4 separate regions of the Homo sapiens genome follow, and regions 1, 3 and 4 are each linked to region 2. Evidence: fine-mapped expression QTL. A gene starts in region 2. Each other region holds a variant in brackets. All regions are shown on one strand. Distances are from middle to middle. Region 1 has its middle 24 kb from the start of TNFSF10. Region 2 holds the start of TNFSF10 (TNF superfamily member 10). Region 3 overlaps LINC02068 (long intergenic non-protein coding RNA 2068). Region 4 overlaps LINC02068 (long intergenic non-protein coding RNA 2068).

Region 1 (8,334 bases), 26 kb before region 2:
ATTTGCTTGTCTGTAAAGGATTTTATTTCTCCTTTGCTTATGAAGTTTAGTTTGGCTGGATATGAAATTCTGGGTTGAAAATTCTTTTCTTTAGTAATGTTGAATATTGGCCCCCACTCTCTTCTGGCTTGTAGAGTTTCTGCAGAGAGATCAGCTGTTAGTCTGATGGTCTTCCCTTTGTAGGTAACCTGACCTTTCTTTCTGGGTGCCTTTAACATGTTTTCCTTCGTTTCAACTTTGGAGAATCTGATGATTATGTGTCTTGGGTTGCTCTTCTCAAGGACTATCTTAGTGGTGTTCTCTGTATTTCCTGAATTTGAATGTTGGCCTGTTTGCTAGGTTGGGGAACTTCACCTGGATAATATCCTGAAGTGTGTTTTCCAACTTGGTTCCATTCTCTCCGTCACTTTCAGGTAAACCAATCAAATCATACGTTTGGTATTCTCACGTAGTCCCATATTTCTTGGAGGCTTTGTTTGTTCCTTTTCATTCTTTTTTTCTCTAACCTTGCCTTCATAGCTTATTTCAGTAAAGCAGTCTTCAGTCTCTGATATCCTCTCTTCTGCTTGATCCATTCAGCTATTGATACTTGTGTATGCTTCACGAAGTTCTCATGCTGTGTTTTTCAGCTCCATCAGGTCATTTATGTTCTTCTCTAAACTGCTTATTCTTGTTAGCAGTTCCTGTAACCTTTTATTAAGGCTCTTAGCTTCCTTGCATTGGGTTAGAACATGCTCCTTTAGCTCAGACAAGTTTGTTTTTACCCACCTTCTGAAGCCTATTTCTGTCAATTCATCAATCTCATTCTCCTTCCAGTCTTGTGCCCATGCTGGACAGGAGTTGTGATCATTTGGAGAAGAGGCATCCTGGTTTTTGGAATTTTCAGCATTTTTGCACTGGTTTTTCCTCATCTTCATGGATTTATCTACCTTTGATTTTTGAGGATGATAATCTTTGGGTGGGTTTTTTGTGTGGGTGTCTTTTTTGTTGATGTTGATGTTGTTGCTTTCTGTTTGTTAGTTTTTCTTCTAATAGCCAGGAACCTTTTTCTTCAGGTCTGCTGCAGTTTGCTGGGGGTCTACTCCAGACCCTGTTACACCTGGTATCACCAGTGGAGGCTGCAGAACAGCAAAGATTGCTGCCTGCTCCTTCCTCTGGAATCTTCATCCCAGGGGGGCACTGGCCTGATGCCAGCCAGAGCTGTCCTGTATGAGGTATGTGTCAACCCCTGTTGGGAAGTCTCTCCCAGTCAGGGGGCATGGGGGTCAGGGACCCACTTGAGGAGGCAGTTTGTCCCTTAGGAGAGCTGGTGCACTGTGCTGGGAGAATCCTCCTTGTCAGGATCAGCTGCTCTCTTCAGTGCCGGCAGGCAGGAAAGATTAAATTTGCTGAAGCTGTGCCCACAGCAGTCCTTTCCTCCAGGTGCTGTGTCCCAAGGAGATGGACATTTTTTCTGTAAGCTCCTTACTGGGGCTGCTGCCTTTCCTTCAGAGATGCCCTCCCCCGTTAAGAGGAATCTAGAGAAACAGTCTGGCCACAGCCTCTTTGCTGCCCTGTGGTGAATTCTGCTCAGTCCAAACCTCCCAGCCTCCTTAGCACTGTCAGGGGAAAACCGCCTACTAAAGCCTCAGTAATGGCAGACGCCCCTTCCCCCACTCCAAGCTTGATGGTCCCAGGTCAACTTCAGATTGCTGTGTTGGCAGTGAGAATTTCAAGCCGGTGGTTCTTAGCTTGCTGGCCTCTGTGGGAGTGGGACCCACTGAGCAAGACCACTGGGCTCCCTGGCTTCAGCCCCCTTTCCAGGGGAGTGAACAGTTCTGTCTCACTGGGGTTCCAGGTGCCACTGGGGTACAAAAAGAAGAAACTCCTGCAGCTAGCTTAGTGTCTGCCCAAACAGCCACGCCGTTTTGTGCTTGAAACCTAGGGCCCTTGTGGTGTTGGCACAAGAGGGAATCTCCTGATCTGTGGATTGCAAAAACCGCGGGAAAAGTGTAGTAACCTGGCTGGGTAGCACAGTCCCTCACGCTTCTCTTGGCTCAAGGAGGGAGGTCCCCCAGCTCCATGCACTTCCTAGGTGAAGCAACGCCACACCTTGCTTCTACTCACTCTCCATAGGTTGTACCCACTGCCTAACCAGTCCCAGTGAGATAAACTGGGTACCTCAATTTATGCAGAAATAACCTGCCTTCTGCATTGGTCTTGCTGGTAGGTGCAGACCAGAGCATTTCCTATTCAGCCATCTTGGCCCCTCACCAATGGATAAGATTTTCTTTTTAAAAGTTAAAATGTAACTTAAAACCCAAATCACAAAACAATTAATATAGTTAACAGTGACTTTCTATGTAATAGCATGTACATCTTGTACACTGGACCAAAAATTACACTTCTAATATAGCTAAACAAATAAGATGCAAAATAAATCGCTTGAAAAACTGTAGACAAAATGTACAAGCAAAACAAGGTGGCTTATATTTACTAAATGAAGTAGAAATTTAAGGTAGAAGAAAGTTGAGAAGAGACATAAGGAAGGGGGTTAAAGCTGTAGTGGTTTGTCATTGGTTGTGGCAGGTGATGGCACAGAGGAGTTAGGTGGTGGAGGGTCAATTTCAGGATCTGATAAGATTCTCCATCATGTTGATGTTGCTATATCCGTTTCTCAGGGAATGAGGTTTGATGCTTTTGGATGAAGAAAGTTGCTAAATAGAGCTTTGCTCTTTGCTGATGCTCCTCTTGTTTACTTTCATACACGTCTTTCTATGGTTCCAAAAAGACATTGGGCCATTTTTGAAAGAAAGGCTTTTATCATATTGCCACCATGGTCAAGGACATTATTTTTGCATCTGCATTGCCATAAATTCTTTGACGTCAGCTGCATTTGGTGGTTTGGTTAGCTACTCTTTGGGTTCTTTTTAATCAATAATCTCTTCTGCAAATTGACATTGCACATCCAGCTGCACAAATTTGGTAGTTCGTTATTTATTTATTTATTTATTTATTTTGAGACGGAGTCTCGTTCTGTCTCCCAGGCTGGAGTGCAGTGGTGTGACCTCAGCTCACTGCAAGCTCGGCCTCCCGGGTTCAAGCAATTCTCCTGTCTCAGCCTCCTGAGTAGCTGGGACTACAGGCGTGTGCCACCACACCTGGCTAATTTTTTGTATTTTTAGTAGAGATGGGGTTTCACCGTGTTAGCCAGGATGGTCTTGATCTCCTGACCTCATGATCTGCCTGCCTCAGCCTCCCAAAGTGCTGGGATTACAGGCGTGAGCCACTGCACACAGACAAAATTTGGTAGTTCTTTAGTCTGAGATTTCAAAACCTTCCAAGATATTTTTATCTGTTTCTGCAAAGAGAGCTTCCTTTGGAAGGGTGGATATATTTACTGTGGTGTCAAACATCTATTTATAAAAACTTTTGAGGTTAGTGGCCAGGAGCAGTGGCTCACTCCTTTAATCCCAGCACTTTGGGAGGCCAAGGTGGGCGGATCGCCTGAAGTCAAGAGTTCGAGACCAGCCTGACCAACATGGAGAAACCCCATCTCTACTAAAAATACAAAATTAGCTGGACGTGATGGCACATGCCTGTAATCCCAGCTACTTGGGAGGCTGAGGCAGGAGAATCACTTGAACCCAGTAGGCGGAGGTTGCGGTGAGCCAAGACTGTGCCATTGCTCTCCAGCCTGGGCAACAAGATTGAAACTCTGTCCCCCAAAAACAAACAAACAAACAAACAAACAAACAAACAAACCACCTTTTGAAGTTAGTTTTGTTTGTGAGCTTGGTTTCTTTCCGTTTGTGACCCTTTGCTGCCTCACTTAGTACTACTAACATCCAAGAAGCATATTACCTAAATTGTCTCTATTCACACTGTTCGAAATGTCTACATGTAGTTCTAACATGAATTTCAATGGTATGTGGGATGTAATTTGAGAATTTTCTCAGAATATGTTTTGTTTAAACTGCTGAACTGAGTTTTGTAGAGGCAAATTAACTTTTTCACTTCTAAACTTTGTTTGAAAAATGATTTTTTCTTGTTTTTCTTCTTTTACTTTTTATTTATTT[A/T]TTTTTTGAGACAAGGTCTCACTCTGTCACCCAGGCTGGAGTGCAGTGGCGAGATCTTGGTTCACTGCAACCTCCACTTCCTGGGCTCAAGTGATCCTCCCATTTTGGTCTCCCAAGTAGCTGGGACTACAGGTGTGTGCCACCATGCCTAGCTAATTTTTGTATTTTTTGTAGAGATGGTGTTTTGCTGCCTCTGTCTCCCAAAGTGCTGGGATTACAGGTGTAAGCCTCTGGGCCCGTTCTATTTTTTTATTTTTTGTGGATACACGGTAGGTGTATACATTTATGCATACATTTATGGGGTACATGAGATATTTTGGTACAGGCATGCAATAGTCTAATAACTATATCAAGGAAAATTGGGCATTCATCACCGCAAGCATTCATCCTTTTTGTTACAAATAATCCAACTATCATCTTTTAGTTAGTTTAAAATATACAATTAAATTATTATTGACTATAGTCACCCTGCTGTGCTATCAAATATTAGGTCTTATTCATTCTTTCTAACTATTTTTTTTTACCATTAAGCATCCACACCTCATTCCCAACCCCCTACCCCCGCTGACCCCCACAGCCACTACACTCTTTCCAGCCTCTGGGTAACTGCCACTCTATCCTGTATCCTTGACATTGGTCTGAGCAAAAATTTCGTGGGTAATGCCCTAATAGCATAGGCAACAAAAGCAAAAATGGTCAAATGTGATCATATTAAGTTAAAAAGCTTCTGCACAACAAATGAAAAACCAACAAAGTGAAGAGACAACCCATATAATGGCAGAAAATATTTGCAAACTACCCATCTGAAATATGTTGTAGTAAGAGATACCCGTGTTCCACGAAGTGTTTGAATTAAAAACCAAAATGCTTTATATCAAGATAGGCTAACTGGAGAATGATTTTGTGGAATATGCATCAGTTATTCACAAATCAATGCTAATAAATGTTCAAACATTTGAATATTTTTTAGATAAATATGAAATAAAAAGAAATTAATCATATGAATATATGTGTAATCATTAAATAAACTGAGCCACTTATCAAAATTCTACTCTTCTGTAAAAGGGAAAACTCCCTGCCTTATTTTAGGAAGTTAGTATAACCTTGACACCAAAATGGCATATGAATACAATGAGGAAGAAAAATTTTAAAATAATCTTATTAACAAACATAAGTAAACTAAACATAAGTAAAATTCCTAAGTAAAATATTGGCAAACTAAATTCACTACTGTATATAATAAATAACATGATCCATTAGAGTTTGTCTCAAGATTATAAGAATAATTTACCATTATAAAAAAATCTATTAATCCAGTCTATCATTGTTGGACATTTGGGTTGGTTCCAAGTCTTTGCTATTGTGAATAATGCCACAATAAACATACGTGTGCATGTGTCTTTATAGAAGCATGATTTAGAGTCCTTTGGGTATATAGCCAGTAATGGGATGGCTGTGTCAAATGGATTAAGAAAATGTGGCACATATACACCATGGAATACTATGCAGCCATAAAAAACGATGAGTTCATGTCCTTTGTAGGGACATGGATGAAATTGGAAATCATCATTCTCAGTAAACTATCGCAAGAACAAAAAAACAAACACCACATATTCTCACTCATAGGTGGGAATTGAACAATGAGAACACATAGACACAGGAAGGGGAACATCACACTCTGGGGACTGTTGTGGGGTGGGAGGAGGGGGAGGGATAGCATTGGGAGATATACCTAATGCTAGATGACAAGTTAGTGGGTGCAGCGCACCAGCATGGCACATGTATACATATGTAACTAACCTGCACATTGTGCACATGTACCCTAAAACTCAAAGTATAATAATAATAAATAAATAAATTAAATAAATAAATAAATAAATAAATAAAAAATCTATTAATGCAGGCACCTATTAACAGGTAAATGGATCAAAAAATCATATAATTATTTCAATATATCTAGACAAAGCATTCAACAACCTATTCATATTGACACTCTTAGGAAGCTAGGGATAGAAAGTAATTTCTTTAACCTGATAAAGTGTTATCTACAGAAAACCTGCTTGCTCCTCAAAATTGTAAAGGCTTCAAAACAATGATCATCTGAGAAACTGCCACTGTCTGGAGGAGTCTAAAAAGAAAGGAAGTCTAAATGTAACATGGTATCCTGGATAGGATTTCAGAACAGAAAAAAATTAGGTAAAAATTAAGGAAATCTAAATAAAGTATGGACTTTCCTTAATAATTATGTATTAGTATTGTTTCATTAATTGTGACCAATGTATCATACTAACAAAAAAATTAACAATAGGGGAAACTGCATGTAGGATATACAGGAACTCTCTAGACTATCTCTTCACAACTTCTTTGTAAATCCAATCTAGATGAACCCTTGTCTCTTGTAAGTGTTTTACACTTAAACTCTATTTTTGTCTGAGATTAGTATGACCACTCTAGTTCCTTTTTGGTTACTATTTGCAATAATATCTTTTTCCATCTTTTCAATTCCAACCTATGTGTGTTCCTAGGTCTAACATGAGTCCCTGAGAGACAGCATGTAGTGGGATCATGGTTTTTTTAATTAATGTGTTTAGTCTTTTTACCTATCTATAGCATTTTATTGGGGAATTTGATCCATTTATATTTAAAGTAATTATGGACAGGGAAGGACTGACTTTTGCCATTTGTTATTTGTTTTCTGTGTCATATAGCTTCCTTTGTCCCTTTCCTCCATTACTACCTTCCCTTGTGTTTAGTTGACTTTTTATGGTGACACTTTTTTATTACCATCTCATTTCCTTTCATGTAGATTCTATAAATATTTTCTGTGTGATTACCATAAAGATTATATATAATATCCTAAAGTTATAAAATCTATTTTGAATTGATACCAACTTAACTTCAATTTCATAAAAAACATTTACTTCTTTAGAGCTCTATCCCTTCCTCCTAACTCCATATTATTGTCCCAAATTAGATCTTTATATATGCACCCACTAACATAGACTTGTAATTGTTTTATGCAGTTATGTTTTAGATATTGTAGAAAATACAGAGTTTATAAATAAAATTACAATAATTCTGATTTTTATATTTTATTATGTGTTTCCTTTTACTGAAGATCTTTGTATCTTCATAAAGCTTTGAATAAGAGAGTTTGGTAAGGTTTATGGGTACAGATCAATATAATAATAACGGTTAACAATTTTTTTTTTTTGAGATAGGGTCTCTCTCTGTAGCCCAGGTTGGAGTGCAGTGGTGTGATCACAGCTCACTGTAGCCTTGGTCTCCTGGGTTCAAGTGATTCTCCCACCTCAGCCTCCTGAGTCATGGGAACACAGGCCCATGCCACAAGGCCTGGATAATTTTTGTATTCTTTGTAGAGACGGGGTTTTGCCATGTTGCCCAGGCTAGTATCAAACTCCTGGGCTCAAGTGATCTGCCTGCATTGGCCTCCCAAAGTGCTGGGATGACAAGCATGAGCCACCATGCCTGGCCAATAGTTAAAAATTTTGTTTGCATTTATTATGTACCAGACATTGTGCTAAGTATGTTAAGTGTAAAATCTATTAATATTCACATCAATCATGTGAGAGGACTACAGTAACGACCCTGTTTTACAGAGTTGGAAACTGAGACCCAGAATTTACTAATCTGTTCAAGTAAGTGGTGGAACTAGGATTTGAATTCCATCAATCTGGATCCAGAGACAATGCTCTCAATCACTATGTTGCACTGTTTCTCAAAGTTAATACCTGCTCCCTGCATCAGCTACTTTAAAATGTCATTAAAAGACATAGATCCCATTCACGATGTCAAAAATAAGTAAATAAATTCAACCTTATTGGAGGTCATTTTAGATGGTCTAAATAAATGGGGGGATACAGTCACTCACGTTTGGGAAGTATCAAGCTAAGTATCTAAAACATGGAAGCTATCCCCAGATTAATCCAGCAATTCAATGCAATTCTATCAAAATCTCTAAAAGGTTGTGTGTGTGTGTTTGTATGTGTGTGTGTCTGCATGTACACAACTTCTAGGTGGTTCCCAAATTAACAGGGAAAAGTAAGAGCTAAGAATAGCTCAGATTATTTTGTACCACAGGACTAAAGAAAGGGAGCATACATCCCTGATATCAAGATTTATAGTAAAGCAACAGTGGTTAAAACCAGATGGTATGATTGACCAATGAGTGGATGAATAAAACGTGTTATACATGTAAAATAGAATATTATTCAACCTTAAAAAGGAAGGAAATTCTGGCACATGCTACAACATG
Region 2 (7,971 bases):
CCATCTCACTCCAGTTAGAATGGTGGTCATTAAAAAGTCAGGAAACAACAGATGCTGGAAGGATGTGGAGAAATAGGAATGCTTTTACACTGTTGGTGGGAGTATAAATTAGTTCAACCAGTGTGGAAGACAGTGTGGCAATTCCTCAAGGAACCAGAAATACCATTTGACTCAGCAATCCCATTACTGGGTATATACCCAAAGGATTATAAATCATTCTACTATAAAGACACATGCACACATATGTTTATTCCAGCACCATTTACAATAGCAAAGACTTGGAACCAACCCAAATGCTCATCAGTGATAGACTGGATAAAGAAAATGTGGCACATATACACCATGGAATACTATGCAGCCATTAAAAAGAATGAATTCATGTCCTTTGCAGAGACATGGATGAAGCTGGAAGCCATCATTCTCAGCAAACTAACACAGGAACAGAAAACCAAACACTGCATGTTCTCACTCATAAGTGGGAGTTGAACAGTGAGAGCACATGGACACAGGGAGGGCAACACACACACTGGGGCCTGTCGGGGGTGGGAGGCTAGGGGAGGGAGAGCATTAGAACAAATCCTAATGCCTGTGGGGCTTACAACCTAGATGATGGGTTGATGGGTGCAGCAAACCACCATGGCACATGTATACCTATGTAACAAACCTGCACGTTCTGTACACGTATCCCAGAACTTAAAGTAAAATAAAAAAATTTAAAAATAAAGAAATCTGTTTGCCAGAATTCACAAAGAGCAATAGACCTCATGTGAGTTATGAATCTGAACTTCATCCTGCTGTGTGCTATTGGATAAAGACTCTAAGAGCTACATTACAGATTTTTTCGACAGGAAGTATCACAGTAACAAGGCCCTATTTAAAGGCTGTTGCTACTGCTGTGGAACAGATTTACCCATTTGTGTTTGAAAGCAGGAAAGAAATTTTATCATTCACCACTTAATTGGTTAGAATCTCTTACTGTGCACCTTTTAAAACCTGCTGCACATTGGACTCAAAAGGAAAACTGAACCAACGGTAATTGAGGAAATAGACTCTTTTATTTATTCATGGCTACAGTGTAAGCTCCAGTCCCTTTGGATTTTATTCCAAACCTTGTTATAATATAAAAAAGGAAGTTTACAAGACATGTCATTGCTGCTTTTACAAAAGGACATTCTATTTATTTTCGCAGGAATTCTCATGTCCCCATAAGCAGAGCTGTCACAGTGTGCACTACCTTAGGTTGTTTTATTGTTGTCATTGTTATTTTTTTCCATTTTGAGCTAATGTGTTTTATCTGTGAATAGTCTTTTACATTTTTGTATGCTGAAAATGGGCACCAAAGAACCTGTAAAAATTATCTTTTTCAATTGAATGTGCACAAATAAAAGTTTGGAAAAGGAAAACAAAAGAACTACAAAGCATTTAGCAGAAAGCTTTCATGAAGAGTTGCAATGGCTGATATTATAAAATACACATACTTTTAAAAACAAAAAATCCCTCAGGAGTTTTGTTGCCCACATCTGCTAGTAACTAGTGAAGCCAGTTGTGTAACTGCACTTAGTTTACACAATTTCTTGAACTTACAGTTTTGCAAAGACCTCAGTTGTTATGTGATTTAGCAGTTAGAGTGTACCCACAGAGAAAGGAAGCAGGAAAGTCTTCAGAGAGGGGCAAGCTGACATGCAAAGAAGCAGGTAACCAGACATTTGCTAAGCGCCTCGAAGACTGAGTGCACTGCACTGCACTGACCTGCTTCAGCTCGTTGGTAAAGTACACGTAAGTTACAGCCACACAGAGAGACTGCAGGAGCACTGTGAAGATCACGATCAGCACGCAGGTCTGTCCCAGGCTGGGTCCCCCCTGGACCTCCATCATAGCCATGATCCTGTCAGAGTCTGACTGCTGTAAGTCAGCCAGGCAGCCGGTCACTGAAGCCCTTCCTTCTCTATTCTTTTATAGTCAGTGAGGAAATGAAAGCGAATGAGTTGTTTTTCTGGGTTCTGTGGCCTTGGCCCCACCCACATCTATTGAACCTGCAACTGTCCCTCCCCTTTCCTACTGCCCAGGGACAGCTCTTGTCTCAAAGTAGTCGTTGGAAAGGAGGGAAACTGAAAGAAGCTCCTCTCCTTGCCCTCAGGATCCATGCACCCCTTATCTGCACTCACCTCAAGCCCATTTCTCTCTTCTCTTTCTTGCTCTCCTTTTGATAATGTCCTCAGCCAAAGAGGGGAGGGATTTTCTTTGCTTTTCCCTAACATATCCTCATTCTACCACAGAGCTCTAAGCCTCATGGCCTGGCTGTCATAGGCACAAGGCCTGTTTTCTAAATTATAAGATAATTTTTATGACCTGAAACTTCCATATGTGGTTTTTCTCATGCTACTGTGAGGGTGGGAAGAGGGCAGGGTGGGAGTGGATAAAGGAAAATAGAAATACTGTCTCATAGCAATGGTCTTGCTACATAATTCCATCTTGAATGTCAGAATCTAAATATTGACGACTTCTTCCTCTTTGCAAACCTTCAGACACAAATTCTAATCTCCTTCTCAGATCTCCATCCCTACCAAGACAACATGCCTGTGTGTTAGGCTGGACAGGTAGGAAGTAGTTGACACACTCAGAAAGGCAAAGGAAAAAAACATGTGGATGTTTTCCAAAATATTAACCCCATCACAATGTCTCGCTGTCACTATCCTTTTACAGATTAGGAAAAGAAGTTACAGGGAGTTAATTACCCTCAGATTCAGGACCCAGCCCCAAATCTCCCCACTATCAGATGTCATAAGCTGGCCCAGCTGTATGTTGTCTCTATATCTTATTCAGCATTTCTTTCTTTCCTTTTCTTCCTTTCTTTCTTTCTTTCTTTTCTTTTCTATTCTTTCCTTCTTTCCTTCTTTCTTTCTTTCTTTCTTTCTTTCTTTCTTTCTTTCTTTCTTTCTTTCTTTCTCTCTTTCATGTATTTATTTATTTTTTTGACAGAATCTCACTTTATCGCCCAGGCTGGAGTGCAGTGGTGCAATGGCACAATCTCGGCCCACTACAACCTCCACCTCCCAGATTCAAGCAATTCTCCTGCCTCAGCCTCCCAAGTAGCTGGGATTACAGGTGCATGCCACCATGCCCAGCTAATTTTTTTGTATTTTTAGTAGAGATGGGGTTTTACCATGTAGGCCAGGCTGGTCTCGAACTCCTGACCTCAAGTGATCCTCTTGCTTCAACCTCCCAACGTGCTGGGATTACAGGCATGAACCACTGCATGGGGCCATTGTTTAGTTATTCCATTCTTGACCCACTGAGTCAGAGTTTCTGGCAGTGGACTTAGGAACCTACATTTTTCAGCAAGTACTCCAAGAGATCCTTTGAAACCTAAAGTTTGGGACCCTAGATCTACAGTTACATTCCTGAGTTCATTCAGGCACCGCTGGTCACCATCACTTCCTGCCCTTGCCTTCTATCTGTAAATGAGTCTATATTTAAGAAAATATTTTCAAATTTTAAATTTGCCTCTGTCAAATTGCCAAATTTTTAAATGCAAATTCCTTTCAGACACAGACAAATTGGCAAGGTAGCATTTTTCCTACTAAAAGTTTTAGACATTATGTGAACCTAACACTATTTGAACACACTTACACTCTAAGTCCTAGACTGAATGAGTTTTTTAAATCAGGTGAAAGATGAGTAGGATAACCGTAATGCACAAGACACACAGCCGGGCAGGGCAGAAACAAGAAACGAGAGATGGCAGAGAAACACAGGGGAGAAGACCAAAGAAAACCAACTTAACACCTTTGTTATAATCCAGAAATAGAAACATTACGGCTATGATGTACGTGAAAGGCATGAAACGAAGGAATGGGAAACGTGCAGGAAGTCAACATCTCTATCTTATAAGCACGTAAGAAAGTCTAGAGTGTGGAAATAAGGAGGCTTATCTCGGGGTCAGGTCAAGAGATGGGGTGATTTGAGGAGTTACAAGAGTCGGCTGGGCGCGGTGGCTCACGCCTGTAATCTCAGCACTTTAGGAGGCCGAGGCGGGCGGATCATGAGGTCAAGAGATCGAGACCATCCTGGCTAACACGGTGAAACTCCATCTCTACTAAAAATACAAAAAATTATTAGGGCATGGTGGTGGGTGCCTGTAGTCCCAGCTACTTGGGAGGCTGAGGCAGGAGAATGGTGTGAACCCGGGAGGCAGAGCTTGCAGTGACCAGAGATCGTGCCACTGAACTCCAGCCTGGGTGACAGAGCAAGACTCCAGCTCAAAAAAAAAAAAAAAAAAAGTCAAGAGGTCTGGCTACCTCTATCTTTGAGCCTCCTAACGTATTAAATATGAAGATATTATATATACATATTTGATATAGAGAAATCTTAATCTTTTTGTTATAACAATGTTTAAATAATATAGAGCTAAAGCCATTATTATTATTATTACTAGCATGGATCTGCTGACTGGCATCCATACATTAACCATAACCTTTAATCAGCAATTCAGTTTCTTTAAACTGGAGTGAGAATTTGTTATTTTATTTTATTTATTTATTTTGAGACAGAGTCTCACTCTGTTACCCAGGCTGGAGTGCAGTGGTACAATCTCAGCTCACTGCAACCTCCACCTCCTGGGTTCAAGTGGTCCTCCTGCCTTAGCCTCCCGAGTAGCTGGGACTACAGGTGCCCGCCACCACACCTGGCTAATTTTTTTTTTTTTGTATTTTTAGTAGAGTCAGGGTTTCACCATGTTGGCCAGGCTGGTCTCAAACTCCTGACCTCAGGTGATCCACCTGCCTTGGCCTCCCAAAATGCTGGGATTACAGGCGTGAGCCACCATACCCGGCTGAGAACCTTTTAAAAATACTTTTTTTTTTTTTTGAGACAGAGTCTCACTTTGTTGCCCAGGCTGGAGTGCAGTGGTGGGATCTCGGCTTACTGCAACTTCCGCCTCCCAGGTTCAAGAGATTCTCGTGTCTCAGCCTCCTGAGTAGCTGGGATTACAGCTGTGCACCACCATGCCTGGCTAATGTTTTGTAGTTTTAGTAGAGACGGGGTTTCACCATGTTGGTCAGGCTGGTCTTGAACTCCTGACCTCAAGTGATCCACCCTCCTCAGCCTCCCAAAGTGCTGAGATTACAGGCTTGATTACACACTGCACCCGGCCTGTTTTATAATTTTTAAGTAATTTTTAATGAAGTCCTTACAAAGCATTAAATTCAGCATTCCAAGAAACAACTCATATTTTATTGGCTTCCATGATATTTATATGAACTATGTAATTACAACTGGCATAATCAGTTCTGAGAATAATTTAATTCTTGTTAGATATATAGATGGAAACAGAAGAATAGCCTAAGTTCTTCATTCCCTGTGTGGAACATACTGACTGAAGGTTAGAGAACTTCCAGTGTATCTTGTTTCCTTTTTTTTTTTTTTTTTTTGAGACGGAATCTCACTCTGTCCCCCAGGCTGGAGTGCAGTGGCGCCGTATCCGCTCACTGCAACCTCCACCTCCTGGGTTCAAGCGATTCTCCTGCCTCAGCCTCCTGAGTAGCTGGGATTACAGGTGCATGCCACCACACCCAGATAATTTTTTGTATTTTTACTAGAGATGGGCTTTTACCTTGTTAGCCAGGATGGCCTCAATATTCTGACCTCGTGATCTGCCCACCTCGGCCTCCCAAAGTGCTGGGATTACCGGCGTGAGCCACCACGCCCAGCCTCTTGTTTGTTTCTATACTTATTTGTTTATTTTATGGCTACCCCATTTATAAGAATGTAGGTTGCATGAGAGTGAAACTTTGCCACATGCATTGCTACCAATGCCTTGCACACTGTGAGCACGATCTATGCTGGTTGGATGAATGAGCATTTCATAGTCTCCAGAATCTTAAGGCTCTTTACCTCAGGAGCAGCAGTGTGTTCTGCAGAATGGTCACAGACACAGAATTGTTAAGTCTTCCCCACCAAGCCTTACAAGAAATCTATTACTTGTTTCCTAGTGCATGACATCCCTAGACTAAGTGCCAAATATTTCATTCTGTGAATAAAGATGTTAGTTAAAATGTAAATGTTAAAGTAAGTTTAAGTAACCACACTGGGAGGCTTGGATTGTTTTCCTAATCAGACCAAGGGACAAAGGAGGTGAAGAGAAGACTGTACATTCCTCAAGCAGAGATGCAGGAAAAGGTTTCGGGACTATAAGGCTGGGTATTTCTCTAAAAGATCTATACTTCCAGCACTTAATTTTGCCAATAGTTGATCCTTGTTTGCTTTTAACATGAAGGGAAAAACAGAAGCTGTTGCTGCCACTGGTGCCCTGTGAAGATTTTTGAAGATTTTTAAAGATTTTAAAACTTTTCTTCTGAAGTAAGGATTTAATTATAAGAGCTGTTAGGCTGGGCGCGTGCGGTGGCTCACGGACATGGTGGTGCGTGCCTGTAATTCCAGCTACTCCGGAGGCTGAGGCAGGAGAATCACTTCAGGCTCGGAGGAGGAGGTTGCAGTGAGCTGAGATCATGCACTGCACCTCAGCCTGGGCAAGAGCAGGACACGTAGACTCAAAAAAATAAAAAGTAAAATAAAAATAAAAATGAAGTCTTGTCAGGTCTTGGACACACTGTCTTTGAGTGAAGAAATGAATTCTATTATTATTGTTTTTTAAATTTTTTTTTGAGATGGAATGTCGCTTTGTCACCAGGCTGGAGTGCAGTGGCATGATCTCTGCTCACTTCAACCTCCGCCTCCTGGGTTCAAGCAATTCTCCCGCCTCAGCCTCCCAAGTAGCTGGGACTATAGGCACGTGCCACCACACCCAGCTAATTTTTGTATTTTTAGTAGAGACGGGGTTTTGCCATGTTGGCCAGGCTGGTCTCGAACTCCTGACCTCAGATGATCTACCCGTCTCGGCCTCCCAACGTGTTGAGATTACAGGCATGAGCCACCACGCCCAGCCAAATCCTATTATTTTTATAATCAGACAATGGTAGAATCATAAAATGACTGGACTGTTAGACATCTTAAAGACCCCCAGGAAAATTCTATTGCTTGGTTGATAAGGAAACTAAAGCACCAAAAGTTAAGTGAGTTAGTCGTGGTTGTTGAATTACAAAATGGCAGAATGACTAGAATTCACATCTATTTGCTTCCAGGTAAATTGCTCTAAACTTTGGCTATTTTATCCACACTATATTGGAGCAAAAACAATTCTGTATTCCTCAAATCATTTATTCCTCCTCCCCCCATCACACTAGATATGACATTGGATATGTGTTTGGACACTTCTGCCCGAGCATCCATACTCCACCACTCAATAGCTGCTCATTCAGGCTAGTAATCTCATATGTGTTGGGACAACTGAGCTTCCAGAATGAAGAGGGCAAACTGCTGCCAGGTGAGTCCTCTTAAGCAATACAAAGTATCTGTCCACTTTTTACAAACTCTTTGGAGATAACAGCTTTTTTTTTTTTTTTTGAGACAGAGTTTCACTCTGTCTCCCAGGCTGGAATGCAATGATGTGATCTCGGCTCACTGCAATCTCTGCCTCCTGGGTTCAAGTGATTCTCCTGCCTCAGTCTCCCGAGTAGCTGGGATTATAGGTGCCTGCCACCACATCTGGCTAATTTTTGTACTTTTAGTAGAGACGGGGTTTCGCCATGTTAGCCAGGCTGGTCTCGAACTCCTGACCTCAGGTGACCCACCCGCCTCAGCCTCCCGAAGTGCTGGGATTACAGGCACGAGCCACCACACCCAGCATCTTCTGAGAAGACTTCAATAGCTATTAAAACAATTATATCAGGCCATGTGGAGGTTGCAGTGAGCTGAGATCATGCCACTGCACTCCAGCCTAGGTGACAGAGCAAGACTCCGTCTCAAAAAAAAACAAAAACAAACCAAAAAAACAGCAATTATACCAACAGTAGTCACTACCTAAGTGTTTCTTTCTTTATGTTGGAGGATGGGGTGGGGTATAGGTTAATATGG
Region 3 (8,334 bases), 33 kb after region 2:
CTCACTAACACTTGCATAAGAGAACAAATCTTACAAGTGTAGTTTTGAAACATCTTTGCTGATTTGAAAATTATTATTTCAGTGTTGTTTTATGAAACTTTAAGTTGTAAATTCTGCTCCTGCTTTGATAATCAGAGCTGTCACTTATCTGTTATTTCATATTTCCAAATGCACAGCGTGGTAGGGAAGAGGTACAGAGATTTTAACATATTTTCATTTTTAAAAAATCTATTATATTACTTATTCTAGGAAAAGAGAAGGATTATGTTGCCTGTAATTTCTTAATATGAATTAATAAGCCCAATAATGTATAATAACTCAATAATGTGCAAGTTGTCCATTTAATGTACATGCAAATTATCAGCATATGTTTTCTATCAGGTTGTAAATCTCCTATTGCAAGCTTTTCTTTCAAAGTTAGGTAGTTTAATCTGAGACTAAAGGTAACAGGCCAGGCGCAGTGGCTCATGTCTATAATCCCAGCACTTTGGGAGGCCGAGGCGGGTTGATCACTTGAGGTCAGGAGTTTGAGGCTGGCCTGACCAATATAGTGAAACCCCATCTCTACTAAAAATACAAAAATTAGCCAGGCATGGTGGCAGCCACCTGTAATCCCAGCTTGGGAGGCTGAGGCAGGAGAATCTCATGAACCCGGGAGGCAGAGGTTGCAATGAGCCAAGATCGCGCCCCTGCACTGCAGCATGGGCGACAGAGTGAGACTCCATCTCAAAAAATAAATAAATAAATAGATAAAATTTTTCCTTTAGACCCAATCAATTGTTACCTGTAGAAGAGTGACTGTCAGAGTTCCCTAATGTATACTTATATACACACTCATCTACGTGCACACGTGTACCCACACCATGTCTCCCTCTCCTTTAGTACATCACCACTCTACGTGGTGATTGGATCTAAGCAATATTTATCCTCAAATCTACATTAAATAAGGATTTATGAGGGCTCTGCGCACATAAAAATATTATTTGATAAAGTATAAAATGGAAGACTGTGCTGAAAGATAACCAATAGTCACATGTTTTCATGGTAATTAATACAAAGTTTAACTGAACAGAATAATTGAGTCTTTAAAAAAAAAAGCAGCAGAGAAGATACCAAAGAGATTATAAATCAGCATTATCGAGAAGGAAAGTTGGCATTGTGTATCAAAAGCCATAAAAATATTCATCCCCCTTGGCCCAGCAATTCCACTGCCAGGAATGTATCCTAAGAAAATAATCACAGTTTTGCAAAGAGATTTATGGGGAAAATGTTCAGTGCATCAATGTTTATAAAAGAAAATTTGGAAGTAACCTAAAAATCTAGTAACAGGAAAATATCAGGTTGAAACACTGAAATCGGTGATACTCAACTACTTTAAACTAGAAAAATAGCTATTAAAAGTAGTTCAACCTAAATATATACACTAAATATGTTAAATTTAATTTAGGGGCCAGATACATCAATAAAGTGACATGATGTTTGGTATGTGGTATTGATAGAAGAATATTTAATGATATGAAAAAATCAAAATACAGTAATTAGATTTTTTTTTTTTAAGACAGAGTCTTGCTCTCTCACCCAGGCTGGAGTGCAGTGACACAATCTCGGCTCACTGCAAGCTCCGCCTCCCAGGTTCACGCCATTCTCCTGCCTCAGTCTCCCAAGTAGCTGGGACTACAGGCGCCAGCCACCACGCCTGGCTAATTTTTTGTATTTTTAGTAAAGACGGGGTTTCACCCTGTTAGCCAGGATGGTCTCGATCTCTTGACCTCATAATCTGCCCGCCTTGGCCTCCCAAAGTGCTGGGATTACAGGCTTGAGCCATCGCGCCCAGCCAGTAATTAGATTTTTTAAAAATCATATAACAAAACAGTGAATAGAACATGTCCTTTTAATGACTTGGTGGATACGAGTTAATATCTACATATTGACATGATTAACATGCATTATCTCTGGCTGTGGGACTGTAGATTACTTTATATTCATCTTCGTGCCTTTCTTTGTTTTCCGAATAGAGATGGCAATTCTGTATTATTTTTGCAATCATAAAAATAAACTAAATACTACATACACACACCTCAGTAAGGAGAATTGGGCCGGGTGTGGTGGCTTACGCCTGTAATCCCAGCACTTTGGAAGTCCGAGATGGGCGGATCACCTGAGCCCAGGAGTTCGAGAGCAGCCTGACCAATATGATGAAGCTCCGTCTCTACTAAAAATACACAAATTAGCTGAGTGTGGTGGCATGCACCTGTAATCCCAGCTACTCGGGAGGTTGAGACAGGAGAATCGCTTGAACCCAGAAGGCAGAGGTTGCACTGAGCCGAGATCGCGTCATTGCACTCCAGCCTGGGCAACAAGAGTGAAACTCCTTCTCAAAAAAAAAAAAAGAGAGAGAGAGAGAATTGGCAGAGTATTCCTGCACCATTATAGCTCTGGAGAAAAAAAAGACTTTGCTTCCTCTCACGACCTTCTACAACTCTTGTCATGGGTCCATTTTCATTTGCAATTGGGCAGATAATCAGGGACATAAAGCAATTTATTGTCCACCCTTAAATAAAGTTTAAACAGTTGACTGGGAGGTATGCCTTTAGCAAAGAGCATTCCTTGTGTTTCCCAGATGGCTGAAATGCCTTTCACAGAGGAAACATTTAAAAAGGACAGGCATTTTCCCTGAGAGGTAAAATCCTCATTAGGGTTAGGGGAAGGGCAAGGAGAAAGCATGCAAAGGCTGAGTGGTCAAGGCCAGCTTGGGAGCTGCACTTGGGGCAGGCAGTGATGGCTGAAGAAGGAAGAGGTTGGTCCCAATACAGACCTACTCAAGTTCACAGCTGAGAAATAGGAAACCAGAAAATAACAAGAACAAAGCAGTAGCTTTCTAACACCTTTTCATGTTGGACATGAGTGGTGAATTAGAGAAAGTTCTTGATATTCCCCTGAGCATCTATGTTCAGAACCAACTGTTGAGAAATCTATTTGAACTGGATTTCATAACCTACTAGAGAGACCAAAAACATGTTGAAACATGAGAGAAAATGATTAAAGATATAAATAAATCCAGACTTGTTTCAATACATGTGGCATCTCAAAGTACAAATTTTGTTACTTCATACTTTGGCTAGTTATTTTTTTTGTTTTTTTTAACAAAATAGTCCTTTGCCAGATACCTCCAGATAAATGGCTGGGTGTACACAGGATTCCAGAATTCCTATTCAATGATAATGGAAGGATGCCTCCCTAGGGTTTTATAAAACAAAGGGTCGGGAAAAGAACACATGACATTATTAGTAAAATATACAGATTTTCTAGCTAGTTCATGTGCACAGGCATTGTAAAATACGTGGGTGTCGTTTTGATGATTGATTTCTCCACTCAGTAACTAGTCATAGCACAAACTCCAGAGCCAGGCTCTGGGCTTGTCTCCCAGCACTGTCACTTATTGTCTATGTGGCCTCAATCAAGTTACCTAACCGCTCTGTGCCTCAGTTTCTCTATCTAGAAAATGGGGTTAGTAACACTAACCCCCTTGCAGGATTATTGTGAAGACTAAATGAGTTAAATACGTAAAGCACTACAGCACCTGGCCATGGTAAATAATAGGAAGGTGTTGGCTCCCCGTCTCTCAGTATTCCTTTGTCTTCCACATCAGCAGTTATCAATCTTTCCCCCAGTTCATCACATTGAGAAATATAATATGTTTTCTTCAGTAACAGGAGCTTACTATGGCAGTGATTTTTAAGAGGAAGGTATGGAAACTTCCCTGGATGGGGTGAGGGTTGGAGGGTGGGGAATTAGACTCTTGTGGATGCCTTCACCTTGTAAATGCTCCCCAGATGACTTTGACATCCACTTCTTTTTTTTTTTTTTTTTTTTGAAATGGAGTCCCTTTCTGTCACCTAGGCTGGAGTGAAGTGGCACGATCTCGGCTCACTGCAACCTCCGCCTCCCGGGTTCAAGCAATTCTCCTGCCTCAGCCTCCCAAGTACTGGGACTACAGGCACACGCCACCACATCCAGCTAATTTTTTGTATTTTTAGTAGAGATGAGGTTTCACTATGTTGACCAGGCTAGTATCGAACTCCTGACCTTGGATGATCCATCTGCCTCAGCCTCCCAAAGTGCTGAGATTACAGGCATGGGCCACCACGCCCCGCCATCCACCCCATTTTCATGAGAGTCATGAGGTAGAATAGTCCATCCAGAGATAATGTTAGCATCAATTATTCTAATCTGTGCTAACTTAACAATTTCTTTGATGACCGGTTGGTCCCTGACAGAACGATCCTCAGATCCTGCCCACCCCTTTCTACCCACTGTGTCAAATTATCATCATTATAGGTTTGCTTCTCTTTTTACAGTAAGAGAATATGCACACGCCATGCATCACCCAAACTACTCCAACTCCTCAGAGAATCATGCCATCTCCCTGAGC[T/C]GGAAGCAGCTGTCCACAATGGGGACACAAGTTATGCAACTATCCTGTGATTTGAAGTGAGGACCAATTTATGAGGGTGTTTTTCATGAAGTGTTTTGTTTTGCTGTGGGGAAACCCAAAGAGGCCATCTCTCTGCAGAGTTCTCTCTTCTAAATATTGCAGTCAGACTTTGAAAACTGCCAGCATGTGGGACGCAAACTAAAAAACTGCCTTTCCTTGGGGCCACAGCCAGGGCTCTACTCTGACTTTCATGGGCCTGACACCTTTGCTTTGCAGGCCCCTTCCTCTATTAAAAAAAAAAATTAGGTAATATTTTATGACTATGTTGGCATAAAAATGAATGTTTATATATTAAAACATTTTATTTAACTTAAGAGGTTAGGAGTTTTTATTTTAAAATAAAGTAAACCCCCCAGCATTTTGGGAGGCTGAGGCGAGTGGATCACGAGGTCAAGAGATCGAGACCATCCTGGCCAACAATGGTGAAATCCTGTCTCTACGAAAAATACAAAACTTAGCCGGGCATGGTGGCACACGCCTGTAGTCCCAGCTACTTGGGAGGCTGAGGCAGGAGAACTGCTTGAACCTGGGAGGCGGAGGTTGCAGTGAGCCGAGATCTCGCCTGGGCAACAAGAGCAAAACTCAGTCTCAAAAAAAAAATTATTATTTTCATTTTGCTTTTGTTTGTTTGTTTTTGAGACGGAGTCTCATTCTGTCACCCAGGCTGGAGTGCAGTGGTGTGATCTCGGCTCACTGCAACTTCCACCTCCTGGGTTGCAGTGATACTCCTGCTTCAGCCTCCTGAGTAGCTGGGATTATAGGTGTGCACCACCACGCCCAACTACTTTTTGTATTTTTAGTAGAGATGAGGGTTTCACCATGTTGGCCAGCTGCTCTTGAACTCCTGACCTCAGGTGATCCACCCACCTCGGCCTCCCAAAGTGCTGGGATTATAGGTGTGAGCCACCACGCCCAGCAACAATTATTATTTTCATGCGATAGCATCTATTGGCCTCCTCCTATAGCGACCAATGCAAAGAAGAGCAAATAAATCACTGCTTTGTTCACCTGTTAGCCTCAGAGCATAGCCAAATTCCTAGCACATATTAGGCAATCAAAAATATTTCTTGAATGAATAATCAAACAAATGAATAAATAGTTCCTAACATGTTTTAAAATAAGTTATTAACCTTGTGGCTAGCTGCAACATTTCCCTCTTTCCTGTATCTTGTTTTTAATTAATAGGTTATTTTTCCTAACAGTAAATGTATTATGTTGTTGAAATTTTGGATACGACACAGAAAAGTGCAAAGGAGAAAATATAAAACCACACATACCCTAAGGCCCAGAAGCAACCTCTGGTAATGTATTGGTATCCTTCCAGAGCTCTTTTCAATGCATATATAGTACATCCTCCCATATTATAAATCTATGGCTATTAGTCTATAGTCATGTGCTGTGTAACAACGTTTCCATCAATGACAGACTGCATCTAGGAAGGTGGTCCCATAAGATTATAATGGAGCTGAACATTTTCTGTTACCTAGTGGCATCATAGTTGTAGTATGTTGTAGCACAACACATTACTTGCATGCCCTTAGTGATGGTGGTGTAAACAAATCTATTGCACTGTTAGTCATATAAAAGCATAGCACATACAATTATGTACAGCATACAATGCTTGATAGTAATAAGTGACTTTGTTATTGTGTTTATTATACTATACCTTTTATTTTTATTTTAGAGTGTTCTCTTTCTACTTATGTATTTTTTAAAAAGTTAACTGTAAAACATCCTCAGGCGTGTCCTTCAGGAGGTATTCCAGAAGGTGTTGTTGTCATAGGAGGTGACAGCTCCATGCACGTTACTGCCCGCCTCTCCCTGCGAGGTAAGACATAGAGATGGAAGACAGTGATACTGGTGATCATGCATGTTACTGCCCCCGTCTCCCTGCGAGGTAAGACATAGAGATGGAAGACAGTGATATTGATGATCCTGACCCTGTGTAGACCTGGGCTAGTATGTGTGTTTGTGTCTTTGTTTTTAATGAAAAGTTTAAAAACTAAAAATAAAAATTGTTAAAAATAGAGAAAAACGTATAGACTAAGAATATAAAGAAAGAAAATATGTTTGTACAGTTAGACAATGTGTTTTAGACTAAGTGTTATTACAAAGGAATCACAAAGTTTAAAAAAAATTAAAATATTTTTAAACTAAAAATGTTACAGGAAGCTAAGTTTAATTTATTATTGAAGAAAGAAAAAATGTGGCCGGGCACAATGGCTCACTTCTGTAATCCCAGAGCTGTGGGAGGCTGAGGCGGGTGGATCACGAGGTCACGAGATCGAGACCAGCCTGGCCGACATGATGAAACCCCCGTCCCTACCAAAAATATAAAAAATTAGCCGGGCGTGGTAGCGCGCACCTGTAATCCCAGCTACTCAGGAGGCTGAGGCAGGAGAATTGCTTGAGCCCAGGAGGTGGAGGTTGCAGTGAGCCGAGATTGTGCCACTGCACTCCAGCCTGGGCAACAAAACAAGACTCTGTCTCAAAAAAAAAAAAGTTTAATAGATTTAGTGTAGCCTAAGTGTACAGTGTTTATAACGTCTACAGTAGTGTAGAGCAATGTCCTAAGGCCTTCACATTCACTCACTCAATCATTGACTCTCCCACAGCAACTTCTAGTTCTGCAAGCTCCATATACAAGCATAGCATTTTTATCTTTTGTATCATATTTTTACTGTAACTTAACATTGTATTACAATAGCCAGCAGTATTTAGTACAGTAACATGCTGTACAGGTTTGTGGCCTAGGAGCAATAAACTATAGCCTGGGTCTGGAAGGCTATAACATCTAGGTTTGTGTAAGCACAATCCGATATTTACACAATGACAACATCACCTAATGACACATTTCTCAGAACACATCCCCATCATTGTTAAGCGGCACATGATTGTATTTTAATATAGTCTCTGAAAGTGGCAGTGCTCTGGGAACACTTATATATAAGGTCGCCAATATCTGGTATGAATGAGTGAGTTTGTCAAAGTGTTTTTACCATTGACTGAAAAGATCTACAGAACCTGAAACTCAAGAGTCATCAGGGGCAAATGGAAAACATTTTTGAGAAGGAGGAAATGAAGCTCAACTTTACCCATTTTAAAATTGAGGCTGGGCGCAGTGGCTCACGCCTGTAATCTCAGCACTTTGGAAGGCCAAGGCTGGTGGATCACCTGAGGTCAGGAGTTCCAGACCAGTCTGGCCAACATGGTGAAATCCCATGTCTATAAAAATACAAAAATTAGCCGGGCGTGGTGGCGAACATCTGTAATCCCAGCTACTTGGAAGGCTGAATCACTTGAACCTGGAAGGCGGAAGTTGCAGTGAGCCGAGATCGCACCACTGCACTACAGCCTGGGCGACAAGAGCAAAACTCTATCTCAAAAAATAATAAAAAATAAAATAAAATAAATGGAGCCACAGCTGGCCTTGATGATGAACATCAAGTCAGTATGGCTTAGTGCAGAATCCTAATAACAATGGTCCTGTCTTGCTAAAGAAGTAAAGCAAGCAAAGACCCCATAATATTACCTGCATTTATATGTAAGAAGAAGGACAAAGAGGTTTTTTTTTTTTCTCAAAAGTTGTTTTAAGATTCATAGGCATCCAGCTTTCACTTTTAAAATTAATGTTAACTTGTTTCCACAAAAAGTGTGAGGAAATGAGTCAGGAAACAGTAAAAGGGCGGAGTGGGAGAGTGGGGGAGAGAGAGAAAAGAGACAGAGAGAGAGAGAGAGAGAGAAACTCATCTGAGGAATAAGGCAGGGTGATTACGTCTGAGTGGTTTTACTATCCTACGCCTGGATTTCCTGAGACGGAAAATTCCAGGAATAGGAGCTGC
Region 4 (8,334 bases), 52 kb after region 2:
AGGGTGAAACATATTTGGTACAGTGAGCAGGGTCTCTGAGAAGACACCTTTTCATGGCATAGTGGAAGTGAGACCCCATCCAGGGTGGTGCTGGCTCCTGGAGATATTGAAGGTGATAAAGCTCTCAATAAGGCCTAGATACATTTTGATCTGCCAACAGAGGTAAATGGGATAGTGAGAATAGCCCTGAGAACCTTGATGAATTAACTAGAGGGATGTGGGCAAAAATTAAGGAGGTGGGAAAGTCCAAAACCAAACAATCTCCTGGTTACTGAGTCGCTGCCTTTGTGCTGCCAGCCTGGGGCCACCTTGGTCTAAACCACCCCCTGACCAGTTACCCCCAGTCTTTACCTAGCAGTACATTAATGACAGCATTGCCAATGTTGCCCAAGTTAAAATAAGAAGTTTCTCTGAGATTGAGCTGGATAAGAAGAAACAGCAATATGACCAAAAGCCCAGCGAATTCATACCTTCCTGGACTCTGCACTTGATTGATGAGGGAGCAACCCAGACTCTCTTCTCCTGTAATGAGTGAAGCCTGGACCAGATGAGAGAGGATGGGATTAATTGTTATAATGGATCTTTGCCCACATTGAATAGGCCAACTCCTCAGGATTGGACAGGTGACAAACCAATCTGGTGACAAACCAATCTGCTTGAAACCTGGTGATCTTCCTAAATTGAAACAATTCTAGAAAGACTTTCAAGCACCCTTTGACTTGGTGAGAGCCCCAGGAGCCTCCTCTATGGCTCTATCAATCCAGAAGGGGATTTAGATGATGTACCACTGCTTGACAGCAAATACACGACTTAATAAAATGGGGGCATCCAACAGGTGGGCTCCATTAACCCTCTTAGTCTCCCTAGGAATGACTACGGGGGACATCGTTGGAAAACTGTACCATAATGTGCCCATGTGGGGCGCTGCCAAAAACACAGCCACAGTGGTGAGTGGTGGCTACTCCCTCATCACATAGCAAATGGAGCTCCAAACCACCATCAGGAGCCCACTAAAAGATAAAAGGAGCCACAGAAAAGGAAGGCCTCAGGCTGCCCTGGACCCAAGGGAAGAGTCGTGTGGCTATGGCTGTTAAGCATGGTGGCTGCTTAAGCATGGTGGCTAAGGAAGAGACAGATGGGATCCCTATTGAACAACTGAGGGATCAGTATGAGCTGAGGGAGGAAACTGAAATCTTTTGTTTTTATTTTAAATTTTTATTTTATTTTTTTCTCTTTTTCTTTGTTTTTTATATTTTTTTATTTTAATTGTTGTGGGTACATAGTAGGCGTACATATTTATGGGGTATGTGGGATGTTTTGATATAGGCATGCAATGCATAATAATCTCATCATGAAAGATGTGGTACCCATCCCCTCAAGCATTTATGGATCTTGAGACTTTTTTGAAGGTTATCACGTTCCTCTTTTTTTCTTCTTCAACTTTTATTTTAAGTTCAGGGGTACATGTGCAGGATGTGCAGGTTTGTCACATAGGTAAACGTGTGCCATGGTGGTTTGCCGCACAGATCGACCCATTATCTAGGTATTAAGCCCAGCATCCATTAGCTATTCTCCCTGATGCCCTCCCTTCCCTACCCCGACAGGCCCCATTGTGTGTTGTTCCCTGCCATGTGTCCATGTATTCACATTGTTCAGCTCCTACTTATAAGTGAGTACAGGTGGTGTTTGGCTTTCTGTTCCTGCATTAGTTTGCTGAGAATAACGGTTTCCAGCTCCATTCATGTCCCTGCAAAGGACATGATCCTATTCCTTTTTATGGCTGCATAGTATTCCATGATGTATATGCACCATAGTTTCTTTAACTAGTCTATCATTGATGGGCATTTGTGTTGAATCTATGTCTTTGCTATTGTGAATAGTGTTGCAATAAACATACATGTGCATATATCTTTATAATATTAATAGAATTATTTATATTCCTTTGGGTATATACCCAATAATGGGATTGCTGGGTCAAATGGTATTTTTGCCTCTAGATCTTTGAAGAATCACCACATTTTTCAAAATGGTTGAACGAATTTACACTCCTACCAACAGTGTAAAAGCATTCCTTTTTCTCTGCAACCTTGCCAAATCTGTTGTTTCTTGATTTTTTAATAATCGCCATTCTGACTGGCATGAGATGGTATTTCATTGTCATTTTGCTTTGCATTTCTGTAATGAATCCTGAGATTTTTTTTTTTTTGAGACGGAGTCTCGCTCTGTCACCCAGGCTGGAGTGCAGTGGCACAATCTTGGCTCACTGCAAGCTCTGCCTCCTGGGTTCATGCCATTCTCCTGCCTCAGCCTCCTGAGTTGCTAGGGCTACAGATGCCTGCCACCACGCCTGGCTAATTTTTTGTATTTTTATTAAAGACAGGGTTTCACCGTGTTAGCCAGGATGGTCTCGATCTCCTGACCTCGTGATCCGCCCGCCTCGGCCTGAAGTGGGAGCTGAACAATGCGAACACATGGACACATGGCAGGGAACAACACACACTGGGGCCTGTCAGGGGATGGGGAAGGGAGGGCATCAGGGAGAATAGCTAATGGATGCTGGGCTTAATACCTAGGTGATGGGTTGATCTGTGCAGCAGATCCCAAAGTTCTGGGATTACAGGCATGAGCCACTAGCGCCCAGCCCAAATCCTGAGATCTTAATGTTAAACGATTGGTTCAAGCAATTGAACCGCAAGAGGAATGCTTGTTAGACTGAGTTGATTTTGCTGACTGGTTCTCTGCCCTGAGTGTTCCCACCAACACTTGAAGGGTTCAAAACAGCAGAGGCATTGGTGGGTGCCAGAGAGAAACTACTTGAAAAGGAACCACTTCCACCATTATATCCTGAGCTAACATCTTTGGAGAAGACAGACTAAAGATGGGGCCAAGATTTGGGGCCACCAGTGGGAACTGAACGCCTGTGCCCTAGTTTGAGAGGCAGGGGAAAAGGGTACTACACAAACTATTATGAGTCTCTTGAACACTGGGGACACTGGGGTCACTGTCATTTCCAGTTGTGGGCAAGAATGACAGGTGACACTGCGAGATTCAAAACTAACACTGTCACATGGAAAGTTGCCATGCACTTAATTGTGGATTCCTCTAGCACCTTTACCATGGCCAGGGATTGTAGTTCCCACTGCTAAATGTACAATACTTATATAAAGTTTGGCCTCCTGTACACAAGGCACCCATCGTGATTCTGGGGTTGCACCCCACCAAATGGTTTCATTTGGATGAGCGTCATGGGATACGTCCTGTTCATGTGTTGTTTTCCTGACCTTCTCTACATCTTCCTCTAGTTCTCTGAGCATCTTTAAGACCGTTGTTTTTATGTCTGGTAGATTCACCAGCCATCAGGTCTTTTCAAGGAAGTTTCTGTTGATTTCTTTTTTTCCTTTGAATGGTCCATGCTTTACTGCTTCTTTGTATACTGATACAGTTTGGCTCTGTGTCTCCACCCAAATCTCATCTTGTAGCTCCCATAATTCCCATGTGTTATGAGAGGGACCCGATGGGAGATGACTGAATCAACAGGGGTGGGTCTTTCCTGTGCTGTTCTTTTGACAGTGAATGGGACTCACAAGATCTCATGGTTTTAAAAACGGGAGTTTCCCTGCACAAGTTATTTTTTTGCCTGCTGCCTTCCACGTAAGATGTGACTTGCTCCACCTTGCCTTCCGCCATGATCGTAAGGCCTCCCCAGCCATTTGGAACTGTAAGTCTAAGAAGCCTCTTTCTTTCGTAAATTGCTGAATCTCAGGTATGTCTTTATCAACAGCATGAAAATGGACCAATACATATACCTTGTGATTTTTTTGTTCAAAACTGAACATTTGGGTCTAGTAATGTGATAACTTTAAAAATCAGATTCTCTCCCTTCCCAGGACTTGCCGAGTTTTGTTTTGGGGTTGGTTTTTGTGGGGTGGTTGTAGGCTATCTGTGTGCTGAGCATTAGCCTGAGGTGCAAACGTAAGGTCTTCTCAAGTGTTTTCTGAGTCTGTACCCCTTTCCCCGGGTTTATGTGGTGACTTAATTTCAAATGTCCTAGTCCTTAATGTCTGACCCTCCAGAAAAGAAAGGAGAAAAATGAAAGTGGGGAAAAAGCACTTGCCTTT[C/T]AAATTTCCTGGAAGTCACTAGAGGGTGGGGGAAGTGGGGTCGGTGGGGGAGGGGGGCAACAATAAGAGAACATGCAACAGTGGTTTCCTTTTTCTGTACTTCTATGTTTAGAAGCAACAATTTAGAGCACAGATCCCCAATAATTAGAGTACAGCATTCCTTTGTCCACACTGGGCAAAGCTATGTGTAAGCTACTCCAGGATCATCTGCACAGCTGCCTGCCAAGCCGCTGAGGGTAAGGGATGGCTACAGCTGACAATGACTGAAACTAACTGCAATTTACAACCTGATATTGTTTGGCTCTGTGTCCCCAGACAAATCGAATCTTGAATTATAATCCCTATTTGTGTTGAGGGAGGAACATGTAATTCCCACATGTCAAGGGAGGGAGGTGAATGGATCATGGGGGTGGTTTCCCCCATGCTGTTCTCATGATAATGAGTGAGTTCTTATGACATCTGCTGGTTTTAAAAGTGGCAGTTTTTTCCTGTGTGCTCTCTCTCCTGCTTCCTTGTGAAGAAGGTGGCTGTTTCCCCTTCTGCCATAATTGTAAGCTTCCTGAGGCCTCCCCAGCCATGTGGAACAGTGATTCAATTAAACCCCTTTCCTTTATACATTACCCAGTCTCAGGTACTTCTTTATAGCAGTGTGAAAACAGACTAATACAGTTAATTGGTACCAAGGTAGTGGGGTACTGCTACAAAAATACAAAAAAATGTGGAAGCAACTTTGGAACTGGGTAATGGTTAGAGATTGGAACAATTTGGAGGGCTCAGAAGAAGACAGGAAGATGTGGGAAAGTTTGGAACTTCCTAGAGACTTGTTGAATGGTTTTGACCAAAATGCTGATAATGATATGGATGGACAATGAAGTCCAGGCTGAGGTGGTCTCAGATGGAGATTAATAACTTATTGAGAAATGGAGAAAAGTCACTCTTGCTATGCTTTAGCAAAGAGACTGGTGACATTTTGCCCCTGCCCTAGATTTCTGTGGAACTTTGAACTTGAGAGAGATGACCTGAAATTGGAACTTACGTTTAAAAGGGAAGCAGAGCATAAAAGTTTGGAAAAATTGCAGCCTGACCATGCAGTAGAAAAGAAAAACCCATTTTCTGGGGAGAAATTCAAACTGGCTGCAAAAATTAGCATAAGTAATGAGGATCCCAATGTTAATCACAAAGACAATGGGGAAAATATCTCCAGAGCCTGTCAGAGATCTTGGCGGCAGCTCCTCCCATCACAGGCCTGGAGGCCTAGGAGGTTAAAAATGATTTATTGGGCCAGGCCCAGGCCCCCACTGCTGTGTGCAGCTTTGGGACTTGGTATGATGCATCCCAGCCACTTTAGCTCCAGCCATAGCTAAAAGGAGCCAATGTACAGCTCAGGCTGTGGCTTCAGAGGGTACAAGCCCCAGACCTTGGCAGCTTCCCTGTAGTGTTAGGCCTGTGGGTACATGGTAGTCAAGAATTGAGGTTTGGGAATGTCTGCCTAGATTTCAAAGGAGGTATAAAAATGCCTGGATGGCCAGGCAGAGGTCTGCTACAGGGGCAGAGCCCTCATGGAAAACCTCTGCTAGGGCAGTGTGGAAGGGAAATATGGGGTAGGAGCCCCCACACAGAGTCCCCACTGGGGCACTGCCTAGGGGAGCTGTGAGAAGAGGGTCACTGTTCTCCAGACCCAAGAATGGTAGATTCACCTCCTTCTTGCACCGTGCACCTAAAAAAGCCATAGGCACTCAATGCCAGCCTGTGAAGAAGCTACTCAAGGCCATGGGAGCCCACTCTTTGCATCAGTGTGTCCTGGGTGTGAGACATGGAGTCAAAAAAGATCATTTTGGAGCTTTAAGATTTAAGGACTGCCTTGCTGGATTTCAGACTTGCATGGGGCCTGTCGCCCCTTTGTTTTGGTTAATTTCTCCCATTTGGAATGGGAGCATTTACCCAAGGCCTGTCCTCCCATTGTATTTAGGAAGTAACTAACTTGCTTTCAATTTTACAGGCTTATAGGTGGAAGAGACTTGCCTTGTCTCAGATGAGACTTTGGACTGTGGACTTTTGAGTTAATGCTGAAATGAGTTAAGACTTTGAGGGACTGTTGGGAAGGCATGATCGGTTTTGAAATGTGAAAAGACATGAGATTTGGGAGGGGCCAGAGGTGGAATGATATGGTTTGGCTCTGTGTCCCCACCAAATCTCATCTCAAACTGTAATCCCCACACCTCGAGGGAAGCACCTGTAATCATCACATGTCAAGGGAGGGAGGTGATTGGATCATGGGGGCAGTTTCTCCCATGCTGTTCTCATGATAGTGAGTTCTCGCAAGATCTGATGGTTTTATAAGTGTTTGGAAGTTTTTCCTTCACTCTTCTCTCTCTTGCCACCATGTGAAGAAGGTCCTCGCTTCCCCTTTGTCTTCTACCATGATTATAAGTTTCCTGAGGCCTCCCCACCCATGTGGAATTGTGTGTCAATTAAACCTCTTTCCTTCATAAATCATCCAGTCTCAGGTATTTCTTCATAACAGCGTAAGAACAAACTAATACACAACCTAAGCCTTCCTCTGGAAATTGTGAACCTTAGATTACTCCAGAGTTCCAAGATAGTTAAGTCATATTCTGCCACTGCATTAGTTGGGTAGGTCAGGAGAGAGATTCCTGGTTCTTCCTACTCTGCCATTTTCCCAGAATCTGCTTATTGTCTCTCTTATTCTGTTGGGCCTGCTGTAACAAAATACTATAAACTGTGTAGCTAACAAATAACAGAAATTCACAAATTTGTATTATTGCAAATAAGTGAAAATTACCTTGCAACCACATACCATACTTATCTGAAGAACTTAAAAACTCTCTCAAGTATAGAAATGCAATACATTACAACAATCTTCTTCCACTTTGAGTTACTTCTCATAATGAAACCACAGAGAAACAAAAGTGGCGCCTTAAAAGAAACTGTGAAAAGAAACTTTAAGCTTCTGTTTGTTCCTGGAATAGATTTGAATCAAATTTAGGAAGGAAGCTCTTCCTCTTGAAAATTAACTGCATGAAAACAAATCAGAAGAAACAAAAGTCAGTTATATAATGTTGGCAGACAAGGAATTTAACCATGGAGAGGACAGTCATGTAGTTCATTTTATGTTATACTAAAATGATACTTTTTTCCAAAGTAGGGTAAAGATTTTCAAAGTTACATTCAATTTGTGACATATTGACTTCCTTTCAAAAATTGCCTTATGAATTACCATATGAAATTTTTCCAGAATCTTTGAGGGACTTAACCTAAGATTTTCCCCTCAGTATACAACAGTGACTAGATTTTTTCTGCCTGTACAGCACTTCAACTACATGGAACAGGTTAAGTCTTGTTTGATAATTCGATTCGTAAAGGTACAAAATGATCATGAACATGCCTGATCACCATATCTGAAACTCACCCTAATCCTGTAAAATGAATACTACTTTCCTTCCTATTTCAGCCTCATCCCAAGCAAAAGAAAAAAAATTTTGAGGCACTACTTATTTTTTATTATGCATAAAAATTTACACATAATTATACATGTGACAAATGTAAAACAGCATGCATTCACCAATATAATATCGGAATAATTTCACTTCCCTAAATATCCTCCATGTTCTGCCTATTTATCCGTCCCTCCCCTCTAGCCCCTGGCATGTATTATAATAAATGTTTGCTTACTACCAGATCATCTCAGGGAGCACCAGTGACATGCAAATATAATTTTGGAAACAATGGACTAAAGTTGTTTAAGCCATGCACAAGTGGCTGCAGTTTATCAATCGAGGTAGCAGCTTGAATTTTTCTGAGAAAGAAGATTATTGTTTCTAAGTATAGCTTAAGTGGCAGAATGTGAGTCTAGAGATGCTGATACCCATATGTTACCACATGGAGAGAGGTCTCATAAGAATGAGGTCAACATGGAGGTGGGAGATGGAGTGGAAGACTGAGAGACAGAGAGAGAGAGGAGATTGATTTCTGACTGCATCTTTTAAGTACTTGGATTTAATTATGCCTGAATGCAGCCTTATCTTAGTCCCTAGACTTTTTAGTTACATAAACTGATACATTCTCACATTCAATTGAGCCAGTTTGAGTTAGGTTTCTGAATGACTCAAGAAGTCTTTATTCTAGAAGTTAGTCTATGGAAATGAAGTTTTACATGGGACAAACCCTAAATTGGATTTGTACAAGACAAGATGTA

Evidence for each region. PIP is the estimated chance that this variant, and not a neighbour inherited with it, causes the effect.
Region 1: its variant is fine-mapped to the expression of TNFSF10 in whole blood (INTERVAL, PIP above 0.99).
Region 3: its variant is fine-mapped to the expression of TNFSF10 in blood mononuclear cells (TOPMed, PIP above 0.99). The same link has a PIP of 0.9 or more in monocytes and whole blood.
Region 4: its variant is fine-mapped to the expression of TNFSF10 in whole blood (TOPMed, PIP above 0.99). The same link has a PIP of 0.9 or more in blood mononuclear cells and monocytes.

The regions. Positions count from the first base shown.
Region 1 is chr3:172,495,109-172,503,442 of GRCh38, forward strand. No RefSeq gene overlaps it. Among named protein-coding and RNA genes, the nearest start is that of TNFSF10, 24 kb to the right of the region's middle. The variant A/T (reference allele first, on the strand shown) is at 4,059.
Region 2 is chr3:172,521,504-172,529,474 of GRCh38, forward strand. TNFSF10 (TNF superfamily member 10) reads right to left here and starts at 1,927. Exons shown (of 5, transcript NM_003810.4): 1 at 1,750-1,927. The coding sequence starts at 1,881. It also overlaps the pseudogene TBPL1P1. RefSeq lists an enhancer at 1,859-1,908.
Region 3 is chr3:172,554,757-172,563,090 of GRCh38, forward strand. It overlaps LINC02068 (long intergenic non-protein coding RNA 2068), which reads right to left. Exons shown (of 4, transcript NR_146714.1): 4 at 6,145-6,313. Among named protein-coding and RNA genes, the nearest start is that of TNFSF10, 35 kb to the left of the region's middle. The variant T/C (reference allele first, on the strand shown) is at 4,433.
Region 4 is chr3:172,573,803-172,582,136 of GRCh38, forward strand. It overlaps LINC02068 (long intergenic non-protein coding RNA 2068), which reads right to left. Exons shown (of 4, transcript NR_146714.1): 3 at 471-538. Among named protein-coding and RNA genes, the nearest start is that of LINC02068, 18 kb to the right of the region's middle. The variant C/T (reference allele first, on the strand shown) is at 4,119.